2 linked regions of the Homo sapiens genome follow. The protein of the gene in region 1 purifies or fractionates together with the protein of each later gene. This does not show direct contact. Each region holds a gene or a part of one and is shown on either strand. Other genes may lie near its edges.

Region 1 (3,653 bases):
CCAACCAACCAACCAACCAAACAAACACCCAAGTAAATGTTCTTGAGACCACATGCCACATTTATACATGTGTGTGTATGTATGTATGTATGTGTGCGTGTTACATATATATATAAAACACCATTTTTTTTCCAACTCAATAGGGACAAATTTTTGTGTTGTGAATCACTTAACAATAGCTTTGTAAGTTATTTTCTTGACTATTTTGCTATTCTTGGCAGTCACAGGTCCTGGGAGCTATTGCTTGCTGGGCATTTACTAAGGTCAGGTGCTCTGCATACACATCCTCATTTGACCTTCAGGACAGCCCCGGAGGGAAGGCGTGGTAACCTCCATTTTACAGATGAGGAAGGGATCAGTGAGGGTGGGGAACAAGTCTAAAGTACAGCTCTACTAAGCAGCAGAGCTGGATCTGAATCCAGGTTTGCCTGATTCTAAAGCCCTCTCTATTAATCCTCATGTATTTCTATTAATTAATTTTTAATCCCCAAATATCAAACTGAACTTTGAAATTCTTAGTTTCTACTGTTTCTTCAGAGTCCTCAGAAAGCTACTAGATGCAGACACACAATCTAAAAACACGTGATTATGGCTAGATACTATAGGAATTATCCAAATGCATGTGCTTATCAAACTTCAAATCTAATAATAAAGAATAATTCTTTAAACCATCATATAAAGTCCACAATTTCGGGCAAGAAAGGTCTTACATTGATATTTTCTAATTGTAGTAGATGTACTGTATAATACGACTTCACATCTTCTGACAAGAGCTTCACACTGAATCCTGTTTCTTTAAACAGCATCTCTTGGTCATCTGTTGGCCAGTACTGTGCACATTTAACCTAAATTTAGAAATATGTATATGATTTTTTTTTAGTTTATAGACATCATGAAACCATAAAGTTAAAAAATGAAAACAAACCAGATATATACATGCTATATTTTTTCAAGTACCCAAAACTAAGAAGTCACTACTATATTCTACGCTTAATGTATTTTAGTAAGATTGAAATTTTATAGCCGGGCGCGGTGACTCACGCCTGTAATCCCAACAATTTGGGAGGCTGAGGCGGGAGGATCACCTGAGATCAGGAGTTCGAGACCAACCTGGCTAATATGGTGAAACCCTGTCTCTACTAAAAATACAAAAACTAGCTAGGCGCGATGGCGGGCGCCTGTAATCCCAGCTACTTGTGAGAGTGAGGCAGGAGAATCGCTTGAACCCAGGAGGTGGAGGTTGCAGTGAGCCAAGATCATTCCACTGCACTCCAGTCTGGGTGACAGAGCAAGACTCCATCTCGGGGAGCAGGGCGGGTAGAGATTGAAATTTTATAAAGCATTTTTTATGTGTGTGCAGTCATCACTGTAAGCCAGTTTTAGAACATTTCTCTCAGACTCAGAAATCCCCTTGTGTCCTATTCCCACTCCAAGCCACAGGCAAGCACTGATCCATTTTCTGTCTCCATAGGCTTTTCTTTTCTTTTGAGCTGGAGTCTTGCTCTGTCGCCCAGGCTGGAATGCAGTGGCGTGATGTTGGCTCACTGCAACCTCTGCCTCCTGGGTTCAAGCAATTCTCCTGCCTCAGCCTTCTGAGCAGCTGGGATTACAGGCGTCTGCCACCACACCCAGCTAATTTTTGTATTTTTAGTAGAGACAGGGTTTTGCCATGTTGGCCAGGCTGGTCTTGAACTCCTGACCTCAAGTGAACCACCAACCTCAGCCTCCCAAAGTGCTGGGATTACAGGCGTGAGCCACCATGTCCGGTCTTATAAGGTATTTTTTAAGTGTTCCTGTAACTTATAAACTAAAAAAGCCATAGGTATCATATTCATAAAATAAAAATAAATTTATCATTCTTAAAGCATGATTACCTATATTTTAACGTCATGGGACATTCACTTTATGTTTCTAAAATTATCAAACTCTTGCAATAATTTTATCTTCAAAATAAATGTTGCTGGCCAAGCGCGGTGGCTCACGCCTGTAATCCCAGCACTTTGGGAGGCTGAGGCAGGCGGATCATGAGGTCAGGAGATCGAGACCATCCTGGCTAACACAGTGAAACCCCGTCTCTACTAAAAATACAACAAATTAGCCGGGTGTGGTGGTGGACGCCTGTAGCCTCAGCTATTTGGGAGGCTGAGGCAGAAGAATGGCGTGAACCTGGGAGGCGGAGCTTGCAGTGAGTCGAGATAGCAGCACTGCACTCCAGCCTGGGCGACAGAGCGAGACTCCGTCTCAAAAAAAAAAAAAAATAATAATAATAATAATGCCTTAAGAGGAAAATAAATAATTTTTTTTTTTTTTAAGAGACAGTGTCTTGCTCTGTAGTAGCCCAGGCTGGAGTGCACTGGGGTGAACTTGGCTCACTTCAGCCTCAATCTTCTGGGCTCAAGCAATCCCCCAACCCCAGCTGGGACTCCAGGTGCGTGCCACCACACCTGGCTACTTTTTGTATTTTTTGTAGAGGCAGGGTCTCACTTTGTTGTCGAGGCTGGTTTTGAATTCCTGGGCTCAAGTGACCCTCCTGCCTCAGCCTCCCAAAGTGCTGGGATTATAGGTGTAAGCCCTCCAACCTGGCCAGAAAAAAAAAAATTTTTTTTAAGTAAAATAGAAATAAAGAGATAAACAGGATTAAAGAGAACGTGACAAATAAAAAAGGTAGGCAAAGAAAATCCAACATACGTATAATAGGAAGACCCAAAGAAGAACATTAAAGCAAGCAAGGGAGCAGAACAAATACTAAGGACTGTAATTCAACAAATATTTCTTTAACAAAAAGTATTTAAAAAATTTTAAAAAGTACTTGAAGTCAAACTCTCAAGAACACATCATGTACCTGTAAAAACTGACCCAGAATGGCCAATTACTAAGACATATTTTTGGTAAAACTAATAATATCTGAAGAAAAAGAAAAAAAGAATTCTTTGGGTAGTGCAGATAAAAAGAACAAGAGACTTATAAAGGAAATAAGATGTCCATTAGACTTTGGTGGAATACCAGAAGGAAATGGAAAAAAAAAGTTGTTCAAAGAATAGCACATGAGCCAAGGATTTTATATCCCGCCAAACTGACTTTCAGATATTAAGACAGCAGATGAACCATCACTGACATGTAAAAAAATCAGACTATAATGCTCACAAGTCCCTCCTTAGGAGCCACTAGAGAATGAGCTTTAGTCAGAATGACTGGAGAGACATCAGCAAAGACTGTTGATGAATATTAAATAATGCTTGCTTGTAGAACTAAGAGTCTACAAGAGATGTAAGGGAGAGACTACAGTTTGTAAAGTACAACTCAGAAACACCAGGAAGAGAATGAAAAAAATATTAAAAATTGTAAACCATTTTCAGTAATTATTTTGGTAGCAGATGATATCATGATTATGGTTATATATTGTATATGATATGGGAAGAAGGAAATGAGTCATTACAAGATAGTTTACATCTCTCATATCTTTGAGAACCAGGATTCTTGGTATGAAAAAGGAAATAGCAGATGTAAGATGGAAGGGGCTAAGCAACACTTATAGTTCCAAATTTGAACTGGGAATATCATTATGAACTCTTGAAGTATGTTATCTTAACATATGCATATTGTTCCTTAGCTTTTGTCCACTGAAAAGCCCTAAAAACAATGACCAGTCCAGT
Region 2 (3,653 bases), on another chromosome or scaffold:
CTGACTAATACATCCTGTCTCTACAAAAAATACAAAAACTAGCCAGACATGGTAATGCATGCCTATAGTCCCACCTACTCAGGAGGTGGGAGGATTACTTAAGCCCCAGAGGTCGAGGCTGCAAATGAGCTGTGATCATGTCACTACACTCCAGCCTGGGTGACAGAATGAGATTTTGTCTCAAAAAATAAAAAATAAATCAATAGGTGTCAAACCCAGGATTAGAACTCACATCTGCCAGACCACAGGGCCTGCCCTCTTCTCACTACACCACACCCTCTCTCCATTGACTTCCTGTTTCTCTGACCCCTGATTTCCAGGAGGAAAAACCAAGTGTGCTCACTGTTGTTTTTTGTACCCATCTCCCCACCCACCCACCTCCTTGCACAAGAGCTGCCCTCAGCAGGAACCCAGGGCTGGAATCTGAGGACCCATGTCCTATACCCCAAGAAAGCAGAACCGATTCTGACATTCTGCCTGGATAGCAGCTGACCTCCCTGCTGAGTCAGCCGCTGGTACTTCCAACATTGCCAGAGACTGTCTATGGTGAAGACAGTGAGGCCCAGGGCACTCTCCACCAGCAGAGCCCAAGACCTCTCCTTGGGGCCAGACATGGAGGCAAGAGACTAGCCCAAATGACATTTTCCAGTCTGGGAACCCAAGATCACAAGGCACCAGACACCCAGATGTGCAAAGGCCAATTTCAAAGCTCACTGTCCCAAAAATAAAAATAGAAATGCCTTCACTGAACTGACCACGTGCTGTACTCAGTGCTTGATGGATATGGACTCATTTAATCTCACCATAACCCTGACAGGCAGGTACTCATAGCATGCCCACCTTATGAATGAGGAAGCTGAGGGGCTCAGGAGGTTAAAGTTCAGAGCTGGGATCTCAACTCTGGAGCACTTGGATCTGGGATCTATCATCACCACAGTGTGCTACCAGCCAACGTCACCCAGACGTCAACATTTCTTTCTCTGATAGCACCACGTAGAATTACTGCCTCTTGATTCCATCTGACAGTGCAAGGATTTCTACTTTTTCTCATTCATACCTGTGTCCATTGCTGCAAAAATCTAGAGGTTCTAAAAAGAAATAACTGGTTTCGTGCTATCGCCTGAAACCAGCATGTCCTGAGTCCGGCGGCAGCTCAAAGTGGCTGCCAATAACAGGGGCTCCTCACTGCATCTCAGTCCTGGCCTACGGCCACCTCCTCAGCAGGGGCTATGGAAAAAGTGCTGGGCTGGAAGCCAGGTGTTTCAAGTCCTAATCTGGCCAAATGATCTTGGGAATGTCACGTAACCAATCAGGGCCTCACTTTCCTCATCTCTCAAATGGGTTCCACAAGGATAGGAATCCTGTCTTTCCATCGTTCTTGCCCTGTGGAGAGCCAGACGTGTAGTAGATGCTAATAAATGTTTGTTGAGTGAATTAATAAAAGTATATGTTACAAGTTTGTCTCTCCTCCCCTGAGGGCCTCAAAGACAGGAAGCAGGTCTGATTCATCTCATTTTCTCACAGTGCTGCAGCTGTTACTCCCACATGCATTTATTCACACAGGAAAGTGCTCCCAGGCACCCACTATGTGGCCAGCCCAGTTGAAGCCTCAGTGTCTTCCAGGACCACACAACACCCTCATGCACTGTCCCTTCTCTTTTACACAGCCAGTGGCTGTAATACTTGGTCACACTGTACTTCTTCACCCCAGGACCTAGGACAACCACCCAGCTGCCTTACAGTCAGCAGCCTTGGCCCATTCTGGGGAGTTTGAGCATGATTCCTGAGCTTTCACTTCCCTCATGCCCAGCCCTGGGGGAGCCCAGCCCAAGGAAAATCCCGACTCTAACCACACCATGTACACGTACATGAACACCAACATTCAAATGTGCAGTGGGGCCCTAGGACAGGAATAAGATGTTTTTCGTTCAAATCCCATTCTTTTGCTATGAGCTGTGTGACCTTAGGCAAGTCCCTTTAGCTCTCTGAGCCTCATTTTATTCACCTATAAAATGGGGATGATAGTCCTGAGGCCTTTCCATGTAGGCTTGTAGGGAGATTCAAGTAGATAATGGATATAAATACCTTTGGCTTAATAACCCGCAGCATGTTCTATCAAACCATTATTCTTATTTCCTTTTTCCAGGGGGAAAAGAGAATGGCAGTTGCCTATGTTTCAGAAAAATCCATGTTTAGGGGCCTGGAGTCTGGAAATTTACTTAGTATATTTGATGGGAATTACCTTGAGGATAGGTGATGTTGTGAGTCCAACATCACCATGTTAACTAAGATTGACTAATGGAAATGTAGACTTAGAATCAAAGAATGGAAGCAACCCAAGAGGTCACCACATTTGTGACAGAGACAGGTAGCTGTCCACAAAAATTCATTCTCCCTGTCCACAATACACGACTGTGGCTGGGAAAGAGCTGCTCTTTGCCAAGAACCTCATATCCTTGTAACTCCATGTCCTGGCCTCCTTTGCAACTAGATTGGCCACATGATAGTTCTCATGTGAGTGGAAGTCATGTCTGCTGCTTCCAGGCCAAAGCAGATAAGCAAATATGCCACCTCCATACTTTCTTTTGTCTTGTGCACCTGGCTGCAGACAATGAGGATATCTGAGGAGAGAGTGGGACCACCAGATGAGTCACTGAAGTACCATGAGGAAGAGGACCACCCTCCATTCAGAAATACTTGCCTTATAATAAAGCTCTGCTTTGCTTCAGCCCTTATGCCTTTGGGGACCTATTTGTTACTGCAGCTACTACCCTAGCTGATATACCATTCGACCTCCTTATTTACAGATGAAATTATTGTGGCCAAAGAGTAAGAGTGCCTTGCCAAGGTCACACAGTAAGCTCAACAAATGTCTAGAACTTTGGTCTCTTAACTCCTTGGAGTAGAGGAGTTGCAGTTTCCTGCCTGCCCCATGGAGCTACAAAGATTCTTAGAGGCCCTTCAGCAACAAGAGTGAGATTTAGTGGCAGCCTGGAGTCTTCCACCTCTGTTTCAACAAGAATAACACCACCTTTATCTGTTTTCAAATTACACTTCCCCATAAGACTTTCATTTGTGGAAAGGATTCTGCAACTGAAAATAATTTCAAAGCCTCCATGCTGGGGGATTGCTAACACGATCTGACTTTCTGTGGTACTATAAGACAAAGTTTCGCTTCTTCTCTGCCAAACCTTCTGGCCTCAACTGCTGACACGGAACATGTGGATTCACAGAAGTACATGAATATTTGCTTAGAAGGGAAAAAAGAAACCTTATTGTGCAGCAAAGAACCCAAGACCCCAGTGTGAACAAAGGGCAAAAAGGAAAGACTTTTAAGCACTCTAGGTTGGTAGTTCTCAAGTTTTGGGGTGCATCTGAATGACCTGGGGTGCTGGTTCAACATGCAGACACTGAAGCCTCATCCACAGAGATTCTGATTTCCAAACTGAAGCTTTAAGAAACACTCACAATTGGCCGGGCGCAGTGGCTCACGCCTGTAATCCCAGCACTTTTGGAGGCCGAGGTGGGTGGATCACAAGGTCAGGAGATTGAGACCATCCTGGCTAATACGGTGAAACCCCGTCTCTACTAAAAATACAAAAAATTAGCCGGGCGGGGTGGTGGGTGCCTGTAGTCGCAGCTACTTGGGAGGC

The links. Proteins that work in one complex are often made in the same cells at the same time.
Region 2: the proteins of PTPN2 (region 1) and CMKLR1 purify together in Homo sapiens (co-immunoprecipitation; one large-scale study listed by IntAct). This does not show direct contact.

Annotation. Positions count from the first base shown.
Region 1 is NC_000018.10:12,825,100-12,828,752, forward strand, and holds part of PTPN2 (tyrosine-protein phosphatase non-receptor type 2), read right to left. Parts: intron 846-3,653; coding exon 711-845; intron 1-710. UniProt on the Homo sapiens protein: Non-receptor type tyrosine-specific phosphatase that dephosphorylates receptor protein tyrosine kinases including INSR, EGFR, CSF1R, PDGFR.
Region 2 is NC_000012.12:108,332,793-108,336,445, forward strand, and holds part of CMKLR1 (chemerin-like receptor 1), read right to left. Parts: intron 1-3,653. UniProt on the Homo sapiens protein: Receptor for the chemoattractant adipokine chemerin/RARRES2 and for the omega-3 fatty acid derived molecule resolvin E1.